Regions from separate parts of the Homo sapiens genome. Here region 2 is linked to region 1. Evidence: fine-mapped expression QTL. Tissue or cell type: thyroid. Region 1 holds a variant in brackets; the other region holds the start of a gene. All regions are shown on one strand. Distances are between the middles of the regions. Region 1 overlaps RYR2 (ryanodine receptor 2). Region 2 holds the start of RYR2 (ryanodine receptor 2).

Region 1 (11,801 bases):
CTGGGATGGAAAAGCTGGGAGCTCAATCTTGGATATTATAGTACTGTGGAGCTGGGATTATGGATGTCTGAGGCCAGTAGGAGCTCTGAGGCCATCCAAGATAGATGTGTCCATTGGAAATTGGGCTTAGAGTTAGAAACTGCTAAGTGGACATTATTTTAAAATTTATTTTGGATATTCAGCTTCCGAACACTGTCCTACGTTTGGGAACCTCACTGTTGCGTGAGTCATGGCATCACCTACAACGGAAGCTGAAAAGGTCAGTACCTGCTTTCTCCATATCCTGCTGCCCAGGGCATGCAACTTGACCTTAGCACAACCAATCCTCCTGTAGCCTGGTACTTTGAACCTGAAGTAAGCAACGTGAAGAACAGGGGACAGGTTAGGGCTACCTCAGGTGTTGGTGCTGAATTATCGTAACTGCTTCTGTGTGTGTCTGGGCCGTGGGCCTTCTGACCACCACCTTCCTTTGGTTTCTGCCCATTTTCCAGGCTACATTGTCCAGTGTCCCTGTTTTTTTGAGACAGAATTTCACTCTTGTTGCCCAGGCTGGAGTGCAATGCCATGATCTCGGCTCACTGCAACATCCACCTGCCAGATTCAAGTGATTCTCCTGCCTCAGCCTCCCGAGTAGCTGGGATTACAGGTGTGTGCCACCACATCTGGCTAATTTTAGTATTTTTAGTAGAGACAGGGTTTTACCATGTTGGCCAGGCTGGTCTCGAACTCCTGACTTCAGGTGGTCCACCCGCCTCGGCCTCCCAAAGTGTTGGGATTACAGGCGTGAGCCACCGCGGCCAGCCCCTGTCAATTCTTTGAACACCTGTTAGCTAGCATTCCAACTTGGTTGGTTTCTGTCATTTGCAACCGAGAATTCTGTCTCTTTTGTCTGGTTGTCTCTCTGTGGTCACCATGCCTTTATCAGTCTGTGTCATCCCGGGCTGAAGTTCCTCACGTGATATTTAGTTGCTTGTGGCCAAAACCCGCCTTCACTGCAAATGCATCGGTTCCTCATCATTTCTCCTCTGGACCAGCAAGGGGCTTTCCTCTCGCCCATCCATCTCCCACCTTTTCGTTTTGTAGGTAGAACCTGGAGGGAGCGGCAGTAATTCATCATCCATGGAACGTGCCTGTCTGTGGCCTGGACCTGTGGGATTTGGCCGGCGTTCCCTTTGCATTACATTTGGTACTTGGAAGCAAGCATCCCTCAGTAGGGACAAGGCTCCAGCTGTCCCTTTCATTAGGGCCCTGCCAAGGACGTTTCCTTTGTTCAGCACCTCCTCCTGCCTGCCCTTAGGACCATCTTCCAAAAAACTCTGCTCTGCCCTCACCCGCTGCTGTCCCCTCCCACCTGTAAGACCAGGCCAGCTCAGCACCTTTCCCTGTCTCCTTGTCTAGCACTGCTGCTTCTGTGTGATGCTCCGGCATGGTGAGTTGACCAACACCATCGCTTAAATGTGCTGTGCCTTTTACAATTATGTGGCTTTGCAGGTGCTGTTCCCTTGCCTTTTTTTCTTTGCCCGGCAAATTCTACTGGTTTGTCAGTCACTTCTCCTTTCTGATAGCCTTTGTGACTCTCCCAGCTGTTACTGGGTCCTGGTCACCCTCTAGGGCCTTGTGTAAACCTTTCTTTCAGGTTTTACCCAGGGCACTGTACTTACTTGTATATGTACTTCTCTCCCCGCCTAGACCCCCATCTCCCTACGGATAGGAAAGGAGTCTCCTCCTCATCTTTGTACCGAGTTTGCAAGCACAGTGCCTGTGCGTGGCAGGCCCTCTGTACCTGTTGACTATCGTGCAGTGGAGATTCAAGCTGGCTGATCTGTGCCTGGTGCTTAATGGCTGTGATGAGTTTGCCACATTCCCTTCTCCCTCGAGGTCTTCTCAACGGTCTGATGGTAATGCTGGGAATTTCAGGCTTTCTGGCAGACTGTCAGGGAGAAATTTCAGTGCAGAAAGGCCTTCTAGAACCTCACGAATAAGGGGTGCTGCTCACATCTTGTGAGTCCTCCCCCTTCCTGACATGAGTCTCAGTGCCGGCAAACACGGCTGGTTGAACCCTGAGCTAGCCCAGCTGCTTTGTTCACCTTACGTTTGGGGAAGGCTGAAATTTTATTGAGCACCGACTGTATTCCACACACTCTTCTAGGTGCCCGAAATATGCTGTTAAACAAATACTCAGCCCTCATGGGGCTGAGAGTCTGGTGGGGAAGACCTGTTGAAAAACAATCATATTAAATGAATTGCATTGCATGTTAGAAGATCGTAAGTACTCTGGGGGAAAATGAGAGTAGAACAGGATAAGGGGGTGATGGAGGGAATGAGTGGTGATTTTAAATGTAGTTATCAGGCTGGGCACAATGGCTTACACCTGTAATCCCAGCATTTTGGAAGGCCAAGACGGGCAGGTCACTTGAAGTCAGGAGTTTGAGACCAGCCTGGCCAACATGGTGAAAACCTGTCTCTACTAAAAATACAAAAATTAGCTGGGCACAGTGGCTCATGCCTGTAATCCCAGCACTTCGGGAGGCTGAGACGGACAGATCACTTGAGGTCAGGAGATCGAGACCAGCCTGGTCAACATGGTAAAACACTGTCCCTACTAAAAATACAGAAATTAGCCAGCAATACAAAAATTGGCAGCTGTAGTCCCAACTACTTGGGAGGCTGAAGCACAAGAATCGCTTGAACCCAGGAGGTGGGAGGTTGCAGTGAGCTGAGATTGCGCCACTGCACTCCAGCCTGGGCGACAAAGCGAGACTCTGTCTCAAAAAAAAAAAAAAAAAAAAAAAATCCAAACAAAAAACATAGTTATCAGAGTGGGTCTCTTTGAGATAGTAGCAGTTGAGCAGCTTGAAGATAGCAGGGGAGTTAGTTCATGGGCTTCCAGGCAGAGGGAGCAGCCAGTGCCAGCACCAACGTGGGAGTGTGCCTGGAGACTCTAAGGAACAGAGTGTGCAGCAGGACTGGGGCACAGTGGTGGGGAGGCCAGAGGGGCTGCGGGTGTGGGCCGGGCAGGTGGAGGAGGCCTTGAGGGCTGTTGAGAGGACTGGGCTCTTGCTATTACTTTTAGCCATATGGGAGTCATTGCAATCCTTTGAGCTGAGGGGTAGCTCGTTCTGATTTTCATTCTGAAAAGACCCGTCTGGCCACTGTGTTGAGAATAGATGTTCCTGGTAAACAGGGGTGGGCAGGGAGAACAGCTCCCCTGCACCAGCTCCCGCTGGGCTGCAGACAGGCTCTGATGTGGCTTGCAGCACGGTGGCAGCAGGGGGAGGTGGCACCGAGCAGCAGGACCCTGGATATTTTTTTGGACATAGAGCCAGGAGGATTTCCTCATGGTTCTGATGAGGGTTGAGAGAGAGAAGGGGAGTCCGGATCATCCCAAGGTTTCTGGCAGACAGATGATGTTTCACCAGCTAAGATGGAGCGGTCCTGGAAAGAGTGAAGATCAAGAGTTTCATTCTGGAAATGTGGGGGTTTTCGCTGTCTGTCAGAGAGTCGTGGAGCTGCTGGGAGGTGGTTAGTGTGGACTTCTGGAGAGAGGGCTGAAACTGTCCTTGAAAAAATGGATTTCTCAGTGTGATGTGTATACAGTGTCCCTTTTTCAGACATGGCACCTTCGTCCATTTGGGCTGCTATAACAAAATGCCATGGACTGGGAGGCTTAGAAACCACAGAAATTATTCCTCACAGTTCTGGATGCTGGGAAGCCCAAGATCAGAGTGCCAGCAATTTGGTGTCTGGTGAAGGCTCGCTTCCTGGTTCATAGGCGGCTGTCTTCTTGCTGTGTTGTCACGTGTAGAAGGGACAAAGGAGCTCTCTGAAGTCCCTTTGTAAAGGGCAGTAATCACCTCCCAAGGCCCCGCCTCCTAATGCCATTACATTTGGGGTTAAGATTTTAACATATGATTTTGGGGGGACTGAGGGACATAAACATTTAGTCTGTAACACAAAGGGAGGTTAATTTGGATTAAGAAATCTAAGGCCATATGGGGGAAATAAAAGGCTGGAGGGCTAAAGAAGGATGAACCAATAAAAGTCTTATAAGCATTATTATGTTTACTAAAATAAAATAGACCAACACATTAAACAATGACATCAAAACATCAATGGACAACATATACTTTATATATCTTAACTTAGAAGTTATAGATGCTGTACTATGAGCCCCACTTAGGAGTTCTTGCTTAATAGAAAACATTGTAGGTTCTGGGAGGCTGAGGCGGGCGGATCACGAGGTCAGGAGATCGAGACCATCCTGGCTAACACGGTGAAACCCCGTCTCTACTAAAAATACAAAAAATTAGCTGGACGTGGTGGCGGGCGCCTGTAGTCCCAGCTACTCAGGAGGCTGAGGCAGGAGAATGGCGTGAACCCAGAGGTGGAGTTTGCAGTGAGCCGAGATCGCACCACTGCACTCCAGCCTGGGAGACAGAGTGAGACTCCATCTCAAAAAAAAAAAAAAAAAGGAAACATTGTAGGTTCTCACTTCTCTGCAGCTTTAGTTTTACCAAGTTGCTTTTACATTTACCTTGCTCTATTATAGGTAATAGATGTGAAGCTTCCGATTCCTGGCTCAGAGTTGGTGACTTCCATCTCCCGTGGAAGATGCCTCTGAGTCCACTCAGGATCTTGTGTGGTCACAAAGGTGTAGGAAACGTCTGGACACTTGAGGTGGAAGATGCTTTGGGGCATTCCCTTCCAGATTCACGGTGTCCTGCAGCCTTAGTTCTTTCCAGAAGCACGTCACACGTGTGGCATCCACCTCCCCTGCACAGGCTGGGCTCCTCCCTCCTTCCCTGGGGTTCCCCTGGGCTTCACATGCCCTCATCTTCCTTTATTTTTCTTGAGGCATTGTTGAAAAGCCTCTACTCCTTTGTGGGGCTGTTTTACCTCCTGGTAAAAAGGTTCCGGTCCTGAGCTCACGGTTTCTCTCATGTCCCCTGTGGGAGTAATTAGAGCTAACCTTCCTGGTGGTGCTGGAAACCTCTGTGGAAGCTGGTTCATGTATGCCTCAACTTTGCATAACAGGGAACATGATCCTAGAATATTCTTTAGGGTAGCATTTCCCAAATTTTCCAGGGAATAAGAATCTCCTGGGCTCCTTGCCTAAGCATCAAGCACTGATTTAGACTTAGCGACCCAGAACCTCCAGGAGAGGGGCCTGGGAATCTGGGTTGTGAGGCTACACCTGTTGGAGGGATCGGAGGGGCCCAGTATATGATACTCCCCTTTCCTGCCCAGCTTCTGAATGAATTGAGACAAAAACAATGACTAGGACAAATGAGAGGTCAAAATGTCCTCATAGAGGCTTGGCTGGAGGATGCTGCGTTAAGTCAGCTAGCCCAGTAGGCCTGCTAATTGAATTCCTGGAATGAGGCTGATGTACCGCAGAGGCCTCCCTGGGAGCAGGGCCGCTGGAGCAGCAACAGAACCTTGCAGCCTGCAGAAGCTCACAACCAAAACAGAGAACAGGGCTGAGCTGCGCTGAGCAGAGCTCTGGGATTCTCTTAAATCTATCAGTCGAAATTATTTCTCCTGAGGCACATAGGAAGTAGAGAGGGCTGAGAGAGGCCGGGAGTGTGTAGGGGCGTGGAGGCTGCAGGGTGGAGGAGAGTCCCTCCTCCTGGCAATCAGGAATGGGAAAAAGCATCTCTTTTACACACCCCAGGTGATTTGCATGATCAGGAAAGTCTGGGAAGTGGGTCTTAGGAAGCCTGCAATGTTGTCTCTTGTCTGTGCTTTCCACCAGCGTTCCAGTTTTGCACTT[T/G]TGGTATTTCTGAGCAAGCTCAGCTTCTGTGTTTTGGGGTACTGGCTCCTAAGAGCAGCTGGGTGTGTGATTAGACAAGGAACTGCTTCACTAGTTTATTTTCATTGTGAGCACACTTCAATATCACTCTTTACATGAACATGAGCAAATGGGTTTAATTTTGAAGTCAGGGCTTGGGATTCTTGCCTTTGTGTCTATGTATATGTGTGTTCAACAGAATAACCAGTGTGAAACCTAACCTAGCCGAACATAACCGGAATAACCAGGGTAAAACCTAACCATCTGTGTATATATTCACAAATACATACATAAATGTGTATATATAAAATACATATATACATATACATATGTAAAATACATATATGTATATATAAAATATATGTATTTTATTTTGAAATAATTACAGTCATAGGTTGCAAAGAAAAATGTACAGGGAAGTCCCATGAATGCTTCCAGTTTATATTTTTTGAAATTGAGAAATATAATCTTAGAAGATGGTAAAGCTGGTTTTTTTTTTAAGTTGGCAAAGAATATGCAGTTAAATTCAGGCATGGAGAGAAAATTGCTTTGAAAGGAAGATTTTTTGCATTGACTTTTGTGTGTGACATTAGCTGTCTGTTTTGGAAAATCTAAGAGCAATATCTGATTATCTATGCTTTCCATCCCTAAAACCACCAACACATAGAGGCTACTGAATCTCCCGAAGGGCCTCGGTGATGGGCCTGGGCAGGAGGAGGCCCCTGCAGCCTGTGGGTGGTGCATGGGCAGCATCTCCTCTCTGCAGTGTCCTGCAGCAGCAGTGCAATGTGATTGATTTCAGAAATTTAAAAAATATTTGCTGACACTGCACTCCAGCCTGGGCGACAGAGCGAGACTCCGTCTCAAAAAAAAAAATAATAATAATAATTTCCTGGGATAGGTAGGGGAAACGGAAATTTACATGATTGCCAACCTGACTACTGATATTTTCCAAGGAAGATTACCTCTGTGAGGGCCTTTTTGCTTTAAATGTCACCTTCATGGTGTTCAGCAATGTTCACTGAGCGTATGACCTGGCTTTGTGCACCGAGAAAACTGCCCAAAATAACAGGTGCCACAGCTTGGTCACAAGACAGACACAGGGCCAGTAAGGTGCTGTCAGTTGTACCCCCTATGCTAAGCTGTGAAATTCTAATCCCCCGGCCCCACTTTCTAACCGTGGAAATGTTGGGTTGTGCCATATCCTGGTATGAATTTTCTTTGTGGAATGATAGGCCCATAGAGTTAAGTTTTCTCTACTGCTGACTTTTACTCACTTAATTTTTACTCAAGTTCTTAAACTTGAGTGTGCATCTGAATCCCCTGGAAAGCTTGTTAAAACGCAGATTGCTGGGCTCTGGCCCCAGAGTTTCTGATTAGGTGGGTCTGAGGTGGGGCCTGAAAATGGGCATTTTTTTTTTCTTTTTTTAAAAGTTTTAGGGTACATGTGCACAATGTGCAGGTTAGTTACATATGTATACATGTGTCATGCTGGTGTGCTGCACCCATTAACTCGTCATTTAGCATTAGGTATATCTCCTAATGCTATCCCTCCCCCCTCCCCCCATCCCACAACAGTCCCCGAAGTGTGATGTTCCCCTTCCTGTGTCCATGTGTTCTCATTGTTCAATTCCCACCTATGAGTGAGAACATGCGGTGTATGGTTTTTTGTCCTTTCGATAGTTTGCTGAGAATGATGGTTTCCAGTTTCATCCACGTCCCTAAGTTCCCAAGGGATGCTGATGCCTCTGGTTTGGAGTCTGCACTTTGAGAACTCTCGCTCTAGGCAAAGCTGGCAAATTTGTCTCAGGTAGGGGCACACCTGCTATCTTCCAGGTAGGCACTGTTCCTCTACTCTTCTGCGTCATCTCAGCTTCATTTCTCCCTCGGGGTACCAATGCTCTGAAACCTCCTGCTGTGGACTGAAACATTCTCTTTGGTTAATTCAAACTGAAATATTCTATTTGGCATCAACTAACATTTGCATATTTCTGGGGGACCAGCCACTTTGCTGCAAGGTGCTTGTATTTGTTATTTAATCTCTACCACAACCCTGTGAGGTCAATTGTGAAGTCCCCCTTTAATGAGACTCAAGAATTCAATGACATTTTCAAGGTCAAGCACGATGCCAGGTCTCAGGCTTGGAGCCTCTGGTACTGGGCCACTGGTCTTCCTTCTCTCTAGCTTCAACATCCTTCTGAAGAGCAATTGGGTCCTTTGTGAGGATGCTTCGAGGTTGGACCAAGTAAATGAATATCTGTTTGGTAACATTGTTGACACTGCTGTATCGAGCTGCTCTAAGAAAGGGAAACATTTTTGGTTCAGAGGACATTCACAGCACTGTGCTTGTTGGAGTATTTGTACCATTGCCTCTTCCAACAGTTACATTTTGCTCTTCTTTCCCTCAAGAGTAGAAGAGGGTGGAGAAGAGGAAATGATTATAATTCATTCCTTTCCCCTCCCTGCCAATTTCTCACAATACCCTTATTGGGAGGCCAAGGCAGGTGGATCACTTGAGGTCAGGAGTTCAAGACCAGCCTGGCCAACATGGCGAAACCCTGTCTCTACCAAAAATACAAAAATTAGCCGGGCGCGGTGGCAGGTGCCTGTTGTCCCAGCTACTCAGGAGACTGTGGGAGGAGAATCGCTTGAACCTGGGAGGCGGAGGTTGCAGTGAGCTGAGGTCGTGCCGCTGCACTCTAGCCTGGGTGACAGAATGAGACTCCGTCTCTTTAAAAAAAAAAAAAAAAAAAAAAGGCACATTTGAAGTTCTGAGTGTGAAGTGTGCTTCAGGATAGTAAATGGAAATGGCAAAAGAAAATATCCAGTGGAAATCTTTGCCATCTTTGGGATTCTCTTTAGTTTTTGCTCATTTTTGCCTATCCTGCAAGGGTAACAGAAAGCTCTGAGATTTGGAGGTCAGACAAACCTGTCTGGCTCCTGCCCTGATTCTGCTCCTTGAGGGTTCTAGTGCAGGGAGGACCTCTGGCAAGTTGGAGGATTGTACCTCTCTGAGCTAGAGAACTGGCAGAAGGACAAAATGTAATTTACTCCACTGTAAGCCCTTGGAAAGCAGGTACCTTGTCTGTTTGGCACCCCAGTGGCAGCCCATGCCCAGCAGCTGTCATTGGTTGGGGGTGGGTGGTGGGTGAGTGCACCCTAGTGGGTAGTTGGAGGATTAAATGAGATAGTATGCAAATAGAGGAGAGTAGGTAAGTTCCCCCTCCATCACTGGATGTTTTTGCTACTTCCCCTACTCTTTTGTTTGTTTGTTTGAGATGGAGTTTTGCTTTTGTTGTCCAGGCTAGGTGCAACGGTGCAATCTCAACACACTGTGACCTCCGCTTCCCGGGTTCAAGCGATTCTCCTGCCTCAGCCTCCTGAGTAGCTGGGATTACAAGCGTCCACCACCACGCCTGGCTAATTTTTTGTATTTTAGTAGAGATGGGGTTTCACCATGTTGGTCAGGCTGGTCTCGAACTCCTGACCTCAGGTGATCCGCCCGCCTCGGCCTCCCAGAGTGCTGGGATTACAGGCGTGAGCCACCGTGCCCGGCCCCCTCCTCTCTTTTTATCTCTCTGCTCTTTAGTTAGCTGGCCTCATGATTCCCATTTTTATTTTGTTTACCTTTTCTGTTAAAGAAATTTTTGCCCAGGCTACCCTTTAGGCAGGGAGGAGAACTTCCCCCTACCTCTTCTTTCTAAGCTACAACATCAAAAAAAAAAAAAAAAAAATTAGCTAATGGCTCTCCCCTTCCAGGCAAATTTCTAGGATTAAACGACTTGATGCTTTTTTGCTCTGATCCAGGCCCACCTTTCCAGCCCACATATAGTAATAATTATGGTTTTATGTTTTTAGGGCTCCACTTTTGTTTGATTTATCTCCCCATGAGGATGTAAGCCTCTTAGGAATGGGGATCATGATTCTTCCTGACTTTTAAAATAACAACTGTTTCTGGCTCCTATTTGGTTTATGCTCCATCATGTAATTTGCTGTCATTCTTGTATTCAGCTGATTTATCCTTAATCCTGTATCTCGGTTGTTTGCTTTTTTATCCCTAAGTGCCCTACCTTGCAGAGCCCTGGCGTCATATAACTATTTATTAAATAAGCTTCACGGAACCTCAACGGGGACTCTGTTCACATGTACCAGCAGTGTGCTCCTTCTCCTTTCTGCATCCAAGACATGATCCTCAGTAGGAATTGAGAACAAAACCCAGCTCTTTAGCCAAAAATGGTTTCTGAGGTTCGGTTTTCATAAATTCAGAAAGGGGGCTTTTTTCCCCTCCATCTGGCCATAGGATATTGTTGGCCTCTCTTTTATTTATTTTATTTTATTTTTATTTTTATTTTTATTTTTTGAGATGGAATCTCACTCTGTCGCCCAGACTGGGGTGCAGTGGCATGATCTCGGCTCACTGTAACCTCTGCCTCCTGGGTTCAAGCAATTCTCCTGCCTCAGCCCCCTGAGTAGCTGGGATTACAGGTGTGCGCCACCATGCTTGGCTAATTTTTTTGTATTTTTAGTAGAGATGAGTTTTCACCATGTTGACCAGGCTGGTCTCGAACTCCTGACCTCAGATGATCCACCTGCCTCAGCCTCCAAAGTACTGAGATTACAGGCATGAGCCATCGTGTCCAGCCGGCCTCTCTTTTAGAAGACTCTGTCCCATTGTCCTTTAAGGGCATGTCACTTCCCTGGAGGTCAAAATCATGTCATACTAGTTTTTGCAATCCACAGCTCCTTGCACAATTCCTGGCCCAGGGAGTGGGTACATCATCAATGTGTGAGGAACAGACTGCCATGAAATAGTGTAAAAAATCCACATAGTACACTTGTGAGAAAAGAGATAAGAACCAGAATTTTCCAAGCAAAGGGATAGAGAGCTACAAGGTGGAATTCAGCAGGCTCACACCTATTGGGTGTTAGAGAGATGAACTTAGATCACATTTATTTAAACATCTCTGAGTGCAGTATTTTTAAAGATCACACAAGAATAAAACTGTAGCACTGAACTTTTCTTTAAGTGTTGAAGTGAAGGAAATGAAGAACTCAGCACGGACCCTGCTTAGACTCCGGCAGAACAGGTGGTCTTGACATGACGTCGCTCCAACATGCACGCAACTTGCCTTTTATTCTCTCAGCTCTTTGTGCCACTAGTACATGGTCACCTGGGCATTTCTTTAGAAAGGGTGCAGAGACTTTCATTTCGTGAAAATATAGATGTCCCAGGGAAAAATAATAATCCAACTGGTATAAGTTTATATCAAACCATATGGAAGTGATTTTTTCTGGTTAGTCATTTTCACGGGGATTAGAGAGTAGAGAAAAGTCAAAGAACCAGGGATTCCCAAGGACACACTTGGCCTGGTCAATATTACTAGGATTGGCCCAGATGCCACCAAATCCTTTTTTCTTCCTACTTATTGAAAACCCTGTTAAATTTGATATGTGTAATATCTTTTCTCTAAAATTTTAGCCTTGCAAATAAAATTTTGCATAACATTTTTATTGACAAGACATTGTGTCACATTAAGGCTTTTGAAGGTGATGAAATGGACATGACATCTTCACCTTAGCAAGTAACACTGAATTAAAGAAGTTTGTATTTCAGAGTGGAAGAGTACAGTATAAAATATTTGAATTCAGACACTTTAGAGCTTGGACCCTGTCAGAAGCTTGGAAATACTTCGATTTTAAAGCTGCTACTCTTCCATTTACCTCACTCCAGGAAATCCTTTTAGAAATCATACTCTTGAGGGAAGAAGACCTAGGGGATAGAGCATGACTCCACTGAGAAATTTAATTTAGGAAAATAATGGGGGAAGGGGCTGTAGCCTAGAGGCTAAAAACCCATGCTCTGGAGCTAGACTGCCTGGCTTCACATCCCAGCCCTACCACCTTTTAACTAGTGTACTGACCTTGGGCAAGTTACTCAACCTCTCTGATCCTGCTGCTTAATCTGTACAATGGGATGTGTGGTAGTATTGGCCTTGTAGGGTTATTTGGA
Region 2 (11,801 bases), 67 kb before region 1:
GAGCTACTCCTCCTGGCTTCTGCTTTGTATTTTTTGATAGCACTCAATGCACCTGACATATACATTTACTTGTTGGTATCTAGCTCCTCCCCTAGAATAAAAGCCCCATGAAGATAGGGCCAGTGCTTTATTTGCTAGGACAAAGCCTGGGACACACGCAATAAACGTTTGTCGAATGAACGAACGAATAAAGGGTTCAAAGAACCTGCTCATGTCCTGTTGTTCTGTGAATACCTAGAAGACATTAGAGATGGGTCTCATGCTGGGACAAACTCTATGGACACAAGCGTTTGGAGGTTACTTTTGTGTTACTGAACACAGCAAAGTGGTTAGCACCCTGCAGTTAAAGAATGAACTCCACATAGAGGAAGGGATAAAAAGAAGAAAGGTGTTTCAAAATGGAATTTTCTTAAAAGGAAAGTGAAAGTAGAAAGGTATCTACAAAATGGTAAACAAGCAGTTCATGACCATCAACAGAAAGGATCTTAATTATTACCCATAAAGAAAAGAAGTATAATAAAAAAGTAGACACATTTTCTCTGCCTCTATGCAGTAGTTATTGCATTTGAGGGACATTACCCTTAAACATACACCTACAGGCCTGGGCAATACAGGATCAAGGGCTGTGGTTCACAGGAGGGAGATACAATCTCTGGCCAGAGTAATCAAAGCCCAGAAGGGGGCTTTGAACTAGTCCTTGAAGCATGGAGTGGATTTCAGCAGGATTTTGTGGCCCTGGATGGCTAAAGAAATAGCAAAAGAAGAGGCACGGCTGAGTAGCTTTTTAATCTGCAGAACAGTAGTCTGGTTGGGAGGCAAAATGGGAATACTAGGAAAGAAATATTGAAAAGGTATGTTTAAGGCTATATCGTGGGGAGTCTCCAAAGCCAAGCTGAGGGGTTTGAACATAACCTGGAGGCATCTGGGGGCCACCTTTCAATGGTTCTAGTTCTTATTGGGCAAGGAAGTGACAAGATGAAAACATTATTATAGGGGGTGGTGCTGGTGGGAGTCAGGAAGATGATTTGCACTGGAAAAGCATAAGAAACAGGAAGATTAGTGATGATGTTAGTGAAATTACTCTGGGATATAAAGACAAGAATCAGGAAAATGCCTTTTACTTATAAAAAGACACTGATGTTCAGTGGGAAAGGTGAGAGAGGAATCAAAAATGGTGATCAGAGTTTGGATTCGAGCTGTAGTACAACAGAAATAGGCAAATCAGGAGGAAGATCTGCCTTCAGAGACACGTGACAGTCAGAATGACCTACTTGGGAAGCCACTAGGCAATTTGAGTTGGAAATGAGGCTGGGGAACCCACATTTCCTTAGGAACCCATACCTCCTGATCTGTAGGGGATACATTCCAAGACCCCAGGGGACGCTCAAAACCATGGATAGGACTGAACCCTATGTATGCTGTGTTTTTCCCCTATACATACAAACCTAGGTTTAAGTTTAGTTTATAAGAGGCACAGTAAGAGATGAACGATGATAACTAGTAATAAAATAGAACAATAATAACAATATGCCAGCATCACTACTCATGCACTTTGGAGTCATTATGAAGTAAAATAAGGGATACATGAACACAGGCACCATGATACCGCGATAGTCGATTTGATTATTGAAACAGCTACTGGCTAACGGTGGGGAGTACAGAAGAGTGGATGCGCTGGACAAAGGGATGATTCATGTCCCGAATGGGACAGAGTGAGATGGTACAAGGTTTCATCACGCTACTCAAACTGGCACACAATTAAAAATGTAGGAATTGTTTATTTCTAGAATTTTCCATTTTAAATTTTGGAACTTTGAGTAACTGGAACTGCAGAAAGCAAAGCTGTGGGTAAGAGGGGACTACAGTAATAAGCAAACTTTTCGTCGGGTGGGGACATCCTTCTCTGTGATGTCCAGGGCTCCTCCGATGCCAAGAGGTAGATCATGTGTACTTTTTCTATCTGCATGTAGTTCAGTCCTGACCCTGGAAATCAGAATACTAATTGTAGTTTGGGGCTTCATAATTTGGAAAGGAACTAATACGATAGTGGTGAATAACCTTCAAGTCTTGAAAAACTGATTTACCCTAAGAATCCAAACTGCGGAGAAAGGCACAAATTGGATATTATTTCTGAACACATAGTAATCTCTGTCTCTTTCCAGAACTTACTTGGCATTCCAAGAGCTAGCAGGACCTGCTTTGGCCTGAAACCAGGGACAGATCTCCCGGGGCTGCCAGAGCCTTTTATAGTTCATGCTAGTCTAGACTCTTTTTTGTGCTTTCCGCTTTGGGATGGAGGTAGGGGAGGAGTATAAGTCCTCGGACCCCTGTGTCAAAACTCAGCAGCTGCATACTCTTGGCCAAGCTACTTAACTTCTTTAAGTCTTCTTTCCTGTTTTTCAAAAATGATATTGCTGCGAAGACGAAAAGAAAAAATAAAATGCAAGTGCTCGGAGCATAGTAAATGCTCAATAAATGAAGTTTCATCACCATCGTCATCATTCGTAATGTAATTTCTGGCCATCTTGCATTAATGCAGAGATTCAGGCCATGTGACCTGAGGACTGGCTTGTGGTGAATTTCCCAGGGATTTATTTCTAGGACAGGTGCTCATAAGAATTATAGTATTTTAGAACACATGCAATAAGGATGTAAATAAAATGGAAATTTTGTAAAATGTTGGTCTGTTGAGTTCTGAAGTGGGATAAGAAGATAGGTATGAAATGTTCCTTAGAGATTTTGAAACAGGAAATCTGAGTTAACAAGAAATGGGCTAAATCTCAGGACGTTAGAGGCTCTCTAATCCTAATTTTATAATGATTCGATGACAATTCCAGAGGCTTTCAAGTCAGTAATAAAGCCTTTAATGTATGTAATCTTAATTGAAAGGAGCTGAATTAAAATGATAACATTGAGTATTTTGCTGAGTTTCCGTAGAAACCTTGAGGAAGAAGTTAATTTTTTAAGCTCATGTACATCATTGGGGAGCTTAGTAAATTGTAAGTCAAAATGAAAAAGCTTACATTTGTCCTAATTTTTTTCTTCTTTAAGGCTGTCTAGCATCCTGCCAAGTGAATAAGTGGGCTACGATGGCCCATTCTTAATTAGATGACTGCAGAAAAACTCTTAATTAAAAAAGCAAAAATATAATTTTTCCCTCTCTTGCAGAATATAAAATTAGTCATAAAGAAGAATACTTCCCAAATTTGGACTAAGAAACATAGAAATGTCATCCTCTAAACTTTTTATTAATAATTTTATGATTAATAAAGATTTAAAATGTAGTATCTATTGAATATAAAGATTATATTATAATAAAGCAATATTAAGATAATAAAAAGCAAAATAAGCTATTATACATAACACGAATTTAGAAAAAGAGAATTTTTTTTTTTTTTTGAGATCAGGTCTTGCTCTGTTACTAGGGTAGTGGCTTGATCATAGCTCACTGCAGCCTCAAACTCCTGGGCTCAAGCAATCCTCCTACCTCAACCTCCCAGTAGCTAGAACTACAGGTTTGTGCCACCATGCCTAGCTAATTAAAATTTTTTTTTTTTTTGGTAGAGATGAGGTCTCCATTGCCCAGGCTCGTTTTGAACTCCTGGCTTCAAGCAATCCTCCTGTTTTGGCCTCTCAAAGCACTGGGATAACAAGTGTGAGCCATTATGCCCAGCCAATAAATATTTTAATAAAAATTACAAAATATATAGATATCAAATACTATTTTCTAATGAAAATTGTAAATAATTTTTTTCTATTTAATGAACTATAGTTTTGTGCCTAGAAAAAGGTCTACTTGTTAATTTCTTTTAGTCTGAGTCTACAATAAGAATTAAATACAGTAAACATAAACTTTAAGCTGTATCCAAATTTTATGTATTTTTTCTCAAGTACACTTAAAATTGAGGTTAGTTAGTATCCTATGATCTCTGCACTGGAATTCTTACTACAATTGTCCACCAGAAGAAGAAACTAGGGAATTATAACTAAATTATCCAAAAGGGTTAAATTTTTTTTAAAAAAGCTATAAGTAAAAAGTTTCCATAGCTTTCACTGAAGTTGCTTTCTTGTAAAAATTATTTTGTTATGTAATTATGAAATATAACAGAATATCAGAGTACCAAAAATAATATTCCACCAATATGCCCATCACCAGTATTAAAACACTTGTTATATTTGCTTTGGTTTTCTTTTTAAAAATAAATGTTGTATATCATTCTCAAACATATTTTTATACTTTTAGAACAGACTAGAGATCTATAAACCTCATAGTTTTGTATTTTTGTGTTTTAAAGTCCACATACACGGTGTGTTTTATAAATAGTCTCTGCTCTATGTCTACTTGCTGTTGAAGACTGTATGGGGTGAATAAGAAACATCGAGTGTCTAGGCCTTTTAGCATTATTCCACTTACATTGAGAGAACTAAAGAAATAATAACCATAACTCTTGCTAGAACAGTTTACAGCCTAGTTAAAATGCCAAAATGAAGACGTGGTAAGCGTTTTTATATTATTTTACCTACCATCTGGGTAGAATGGAGTAATTAAGAAACCTGTCTCTGCATAGTTCTGAATAAAATAGTTTAAAACGTCAATTTGATACGTTCTAAATTTGGAAGATCAAATCATTTAACATTAAATCAGGAGCCAATTTCAGAATATAGTCATTGCTCATGGAGGACTCTTACCCGACTTTTTGGGAGCTCACTGGTTGTTCCTTTAGAGACTCGTAAGAGTAAACATTCACATAAATAATAACGGTTTAAGAGTTGGTTAGTCGTCATGGCTACAGGGATAGGTCAAGTTTTTAGGTAAGGTGACTGGTATACTTCCATGAGATAGGGCAGAACATTACTAGTTCTACCACGGACAGCGAGTATTTATACACATATTGTCATTCTCCTGGAAATTTACAAACCTACCCCAGTAAGTACAAAGTTAATGAATGCTAAAAATAAAATATAAACTGTATAGAACTCAGTGGTCGATTTTAATAATGAGTTAGATGCCGCAGAATGTAAGATGTAGGTAAACGGACGCAAAAATCCTTGTTTTACAATGTCTGCATCTCCGTAGTACTGACATTTGAAAACTTTACTTTGCACATACTTATTTTAAGTACGATAAATGAAAGCGCTGTGGACTAGGAACAAGAGACAAATTGCTTTCTTGTCCAAATTGTCTCAGACCCTGTATTTTCTTAGTCATAGCCGTTTGTTAAGTAGGCATTTGGTAGACTATTGCATGGAGGATTGCGAGAGCAAGATATTACTATCTGCGGTGGAATGCTCGAATTTCTTCTCTCAGCAAGGATAATGGGTAGCACAGTCTGACTTTAGACCCATCCAGTGGTTCAGACTTATAGATAGTATCCCATACTTTACCGCAATTCCTTGTTGAATTAAGGCTTGCACTTCGAATACAGACTACACACTTCTGGGTCTGTCTTGTACCACATTGTCTGGCATAGGCGCTCACTGTATATTTGTTGAATGTTAAAGTTCTGTGCACCAAAACCGTGCACTTTGCATCGATTATCTGCGAAAAGCATGGTACACTAAAACTAGATCTTGAAGAATTCCCATTTGATCATGAATAGAGGTAATCCACGTTTAAAATACCAGGTGTTGCGTAATCTCTACTTGGAGATTAGCCACCCCGTGCGCCCAGGTGAAAGATATCATTCTTCCGTGCGATCCGAAGTGCCGTGGAAGTTAGTGCCCTAGCCCAGTCCAGGAGGAAGGGGCGTCGTGCCGGCGGTTTTAAGCTCGGAAGGGGCAGGGGAATGAGCCCAGGGACCCCAGCGGGGCGCAGGTAGGAGGCTGTGCGCTCGCCGGGTGCGCTCCGGCCCCGATTCCCAGCGCAGCCAGTAAGTGGCGCTGGGCCTCGGGTTTGGCGGCCCGGAGGAGCGGGCTGCGGATTACCTGCAGCAGCGGGGAGCCGCCGAGCTCCTCCCCGCCCGCCCCCACACCCCACCCCCACCGCTGCACTAACCCCGGCTCAGCTGGCTCCGCGCACTTGCTCGGAGGAGCCGGGGCCGAGCGGACCGCCGGCTGCAGGCAGCGAGCGCGGCTGGGCTGCGGGGCTGCTTCCCCGCGTCCTCCGGGCCCGGGCCGCCCTCCTCCCGCACAGTGCGGAGCAGGGAGGCCCCGCGCCTCGACCACCCGCGCCCGAGCGTCCGCGCCTCCTCCTCCGCTCTGCAGGCGGGGACCGCCCGGCGCTCGGCACCCGGCAGCGCGGCCCCCTCCAGCCCCCGGCTCCCGGCAGCAGAAGCAGAAGGCAGCGCCAGGGGCCGCCGCCGCCGCCGAGCTCCGCGGGGCTCGGGAGCCGGCCCCGGCGAGGAGGCGCGGAACCATGGCCGATGGGGGCGAGGGCGAAGACGAGATCCAGTTCCTGCGAACTGTAAGCGCCGTGCGTCGCGTGTGCTGTCAGGGGAAGGGGGCGTCAGGGCATCCACTAGCGGGGTCCGGGCAGAGTGACAGCGGGCAGCGGGGACTCGCGGGCGGGGCGAGGGGGTGCCCCCTGAGGATGCGGGAGGAGCGGGCATCACCAAGTGTGTGCAGGTGTGCGTGTTGGGGCGAGGGAAGGCAAGGGCGCGTGTCTGTGCGCGCGTGTGGAAAGCTAGAGGATGGAGCGCGGCTAGCCGGCGGCAGGCGCCCGGGCTCGGACCCGGGGCACCGGGGACAGGAGCGTCGGAGCTGCGGGAACCGGGAGAGGAGGGGACGGCCGGTCCGGCCTGCCTGGTGGCACGGCTGGGACCTCCCGGGCGGCCGGGGGCAGGGTGCAGAGCAGGGTGGCCCGTGGGGGCGCGGGGAGCGGCGGGAACTCGGGCTGTTTCTGGGAATACCGCCGCCGGGAGGTTTCTTGGGCTTTCGGGCTGGACCCGCGCGTTGTCACGGAGCGAAGACGTTGGTTCGCTTACTCCGTGTAGCGTGCGGCGCAGCTGACCGGGGGCGGGGGTGATGGTGCAGGACGCTGCGCGGAGGTTTCCCCCAAGTCAAGGTGCTGCGAAAGCGGAGGAGGAGTCGCCTCCGTGGTCCCCGCGGTTCCCGGGGCTGGTGCCATCCGTGGTGGTGCTGTGACCGCTTGCAAAGCGTGGAAGGCATGGGAAGCGAGCGTGTGTTTGCGTGTGTGCGCGCGCGCGGGTGGTGGTGGGGAGAACATCGTGAACGTGTCGTTCTCTAAATGCTGGCTTATTGCATGCCAAGTGAAGCAAAGTGTGTGTGTGTAAGTGTAAGGGCAGGGTGGCTGCCCGGGAAAGGTTGGCTCCACACTAATACAATTCTTTCTCCTTAAGTACCTCTTGGCACTGCTCCTTCCTTTCTCTCATTTGTTCGAACACTGCAGATACTTCCCAGGCTGAGGCATTGCACACCTCCAAGCTGGGACTGGAGAGCCTCTCCAGAAAAGAAAATGCCCTAACTTCCTGCTAATAATAACCTAGTTAGCATCCTTTCAGTCGTTCCTTCTCCACTTCTGTCCTCCTTCCCGAAGGATGTTCCCTTGCAGGATTCCCCAGACTTCCCCAACCTAGAACTGCAGCTTCTGCTGGTACTTCTTTCCTCAGCAGTACAAAAACAAAACAAAACAAAACAAACAAACAAACAAAACCACTTCCCGGTTACAGTTACCTATAATCACAGAAAATCGTAGATACGGTGGAATTTTGGAATATTAACTTTTAGGTGTGAAAATAGTCTTGATGTATTTGGGTACTAAACATATGAAAACAGCGAATTTGCAAAGGAACGTTGTAAACGACTGTCTCTTTCTCTTTTGTGCATTAAACGGACTGGGAGAAAGCTTTGGGAAGGATAAAAACCCAGGGTCCACATCAGATGACAACCTAATAGTAATCCAGTCTAATAGCTGCAGGTTATGCACCATTGCATATGCTTTTTGAAGTACTGTTGGCCCAAGACCGGGCTTGGAAGAGCCTCTTCACTAATACCTTGGTCACGGTGTATAAACCTGCTAGTAATACAGTTGTCTTTTTCATAGAAAATAGACTATAAGGGTTTTTTTTTTTTTAAGTAATTAACACCACATTAGATTTTTCTCAAAACTAAGGACTATTTTATTCAGGTGGACAAATACGGTTGCTGTATAATTTTTCAATCAATTCGTATCAAACTCTGTGGGGTTAAAACTAGCTGGGACATTTTGGTAGGCTTCATGCACTCAAGGGCTTCCTGCGGGCTTAACTGTTAAGCCGAGCTCATGGAGGTGGTGTTATCAGAATGCTTAATGGGGACCGAGGGAACGTGCTGGCTGATGAGGTTCTGCACATATCAAGTAATGTCAACTCTGTGCCACTCAGCAGCTGCCTGTCAGCTAGAGCAGCACCTTTGATAAGTGGGTCCTGGGTAGAGATCTGGCAGTCCCAGGCTGGGATTTTTCTTTTAATAAAACATCCGTAGGTTGCTGTGCTGACGACAAATGACCTTGAAGGAGGTGACACAGTGGAGCAGGGGGATTTTTTTTTTTTTGGTATAGCATTAACATCTAAAAGGAAAACATGCCTTTCCTCACAATTTTCCAATTTTCATATGGAAATTCTCAAATCCTTTACCGGCTTCTCCACCCATTACCCTCCATCCTTCCCTCCCCCACCCCCCTTTTTTTTCTCTTAACCTGAGAATGTTGGTGGTTCAGAAATGCTGATGGGGTGAATAATGGGGAGACTGTAGTATAGTTCCCACATTGAAGTCGCTTCTTTTTTTTCTGAGGGCATTTATTTCTCTGTCATGTGCAAGCTTGTCAATATGAGTTATTTCTTCTTCTTCTTCTTTTTTTTTTTTTTTAAAGCAAATAGCCCAAGGAGTATTAGGAATCTGTACATCTTGATAAAACAGTTGTAGATGGAAGAATTCTTGATAGTGATGGATGAAGCTGTTTTGCATAGAAAAACAAAAACAGTCATTAAGACACCGTAATTGTGAATTTGATGGGACATTTCATATGTCCTGATTAGAACATCTGGATTATTATCTTGAGCAGGTCATTGTCTATTGGATTTGTATTCAGCACCCCAGCACATTGAGGCATCTTTTTGACCACTGTCCACAGAAAGCTTTTTTGCTTTTCTTTTTTTAGAAGAGGTGTGAGATCACTGTTAAGGGAAGTAGAGGTGAAATCTTTAATGGGCTGTATCTGTGAGTTATGTATGCTGCTGTAAATTAATTCCTCATTTGCAAAGGGGTTTGTCACTGTTTAGCTTGTACCTGTCTCTCTGGCATCTCTGTTCCATTTGCTGCTGCTTGTCGAGTTGGCTCACATTCCTTCCAAATAGTTATGTAGATGAATGATCATTGATTCAGTGGCTCCCCCATCTGTTGGAAACCTGCCCACTTGGGTCTGTTTATCTTTGAGAGAGATTGAAAATATGTTTTTGTAAACTCTGGATATGCTGGGACACTTATTTTATGAGAGAAAAATCCTATCATAAAATAAGCTGTCAGCTTGTAATGGATTCATTCACTGTCATATCCAAACATATCCATGATTTGGAATGTGTGTTTTATTTTAAAGATTTTATTAACTTACCAATGTAGCATCAAACTGTCATTTGGCATTTAAAAACACGCATCTTTTTCGTTATGGTCCTCTTTTTTTTTTTTTTTCCAACAATCATACAGAATGTTATAGAAGATATTCCTCTGACTTTAGGAAAACCATGGTATAAAATGACCTTGGTCAAGGTTTTTTTTTTTTTTTTTTTTTTTTTTGAGTACTTTGTCTTTCTTTCATTTGTCTAAGCACAGTTGAGTTACCCTTGTGGTGTACTGTGTCATGTAGTTTTGTATTTACCCATAGATTGAGACTTAAAGCTTAGTCCTGGCTGTAAGAATGATCCTGATAGGAATGCTTACGGTCTTCCTCCTGTCTTCTTTTGCAGAATGAAGTATTTCATTATAGATTTCTTCTCAGTGTTCATACATCTTGTTCCACAATGACAAGAAGCATCTTTAAATATACTCATCTACAAATGGTGACAATTATGCAGTATAGATGCTGGTGTACAACACTGCATAGTAGTTTGGATGGGAATACTTAGCCCTAGTTTGTAGAGGTCCAGGAAGGTTAATGGTATGAAGTCAGTACTCAGCAGTGCAGAACGAGGACTAAAATTCAAATCTTAGGCTAATAGTGTTCTTTCCAGGAGAGAAAGGCTTCTTTATCTGCTGTTCAAGTATGTTTTAGGTTTATAGCAAAAGAATACCAAGTCAGTTTTCTCAGCTGTAGGAATGTCACAGAGTACAAAGGAAAAGATGGAATGAGCAGTGGAAATTCGCACTTTTTGCTCCCTTCATAATGAAGCTACGAGGAGCTTTAGATAGATATGCACTATGGTATTTTCCCAAGGAACTGATGGAAAGCCCACCCAGGCTTACATCATCAGACTTATTTTATTTTAACTTAGAAATTAGCATGTACACATTGGCAGGAAGGGCAAGATCTAAAACGCTTAGGGCACTAATTTATTTGACATTCAATTGTATTTGTACTTTGGCTTCAGATAAGTGTTTTTATCACGGCTGAATTACCCAAGAAAGGACTCCAGCAGCACTGGGTGACTGTGCTTCTTTAGATAGCTTTCGGGAGAGAGGGAGAGGTGATGAAGCACACATTTTTCCTGAAACTCTGACATTGTGGGAATTAGATTAATTCAGAAAACATTTGTTGAACACCGTCTGTATGCATAGCATGTTAAGGAAGTATTCCAAATAAGTAGGGAAGTGGTTTGCAGCTGTAATTGCAAAGAATAGATATAGAGGATGGCATGGAGCAATCAGAAGGAAAAATGCATAAACAAACTCCAAAACATTAGGGTAGGAAGAGGCCTTTAGAAAACATTACCCTGTCCACCCCATGCCTCTCTGATATTGCAGATAAGGAAACAAAAGCTCAGAAAGCCAAATGACTTGGCCCAGTGTCACACTCCAAGTTAGTGGCATTTAGTAATGGAGAGTATATGAAAATCTGTGAAGAATTTCCAGAAAGGAGGTTTACCAGCACATCATTCTTTATAGAGTAGATTTAAACCCACTTTTCCATTTTATCCTTAACTTGACCTTCATAGAGTTCTGTCTCCAAATCTGTCCTCTTGTCCTTCCAGCCAGTGAAAAGGAGGTTTCTTTTGTCTTTTCTAATGTTACAGTCCCTCACATGGCCTGAATCTTGGTCCTGGAAGCCAAGATTGGAATCCATCCTTTCTAGCCTTTTTTTTTTTTTTTTTGCCTCCCTATCCACTTACTCCTTCTGGTTTATCTTGAAGCCTGTTAATTTCTCCCATCTTAAAATGTCTGTCTTTGACCCGGATACCTTATTTGGTTGCTCCCCTCCTGCAGAAGTGGTCTTCTCCCACTGCTTGTACCCCTCTCCATGTAATTATCTAGCTTCTCTTCCTTCTTCAATTTACTTTCCAGGATGTTGCCAGTAACTCCCTCCTTGCCACGTCTAAATGTCCCTCTCTGTCCCTATTCCCTTAGATTCCTTCTCAAGCTCTACTACCCTGACTTTCCTTTTTGAAGCTACTCTTTTGACTTTGGGGACATGGTACCTTCTGGGTAATTTTTTACATTTCTGATCATGCTTTTTCCAGGTGCTTTTCATTCCTTTTACTCCAAGTGTGTGGTTATCCCAAAAGATTCTGTCCTATTTCCTGTTCTGGCTCTTCTGCCTTCATGAGCTTATCTATGTCACAAAATCTGGGATCTCTTGAATAACAGAGTCTGAAAAGACTTAACAATGACTTCATCCAGCTCTGAGAGCCAGAGAGATGAAAGGAATGTTCCCA

Evidence for each region. PIP is the estimated chance that this variant, and not a neighbour inherited with it, causes the effect.
Region 2: it holds the start of RYR2, and the variant in region 1 is fine-mapped to the expression of RYR2 in thyroid (GTEx, PIP 0.93).

Annotation. Positions count from the first base shown.
Region 1 is chr1:237,103,066-237,114,866 of GRCh38, forward strand. The region is part of intron 1 of RYR2 (ryanodine receptor 2); the gene reads left to right. Among named protein-coding and RNA genes, the nearest start is that of RYR2, 67 kb to the left of the region's middle. The variant T/G (reference allele first, on the strand shown) is at 5,774.
Region 2 is chr1:237,036,167-237,047,967 of GRCh38, forward strand. It overlaps RYR2 (ryanodine receptor 2), which reads left to right and starts at 6,018. Exons shown (of 105, transcript NM_001035.3): 1 at 6,018-6,403. The coding sequence starts at 6,356.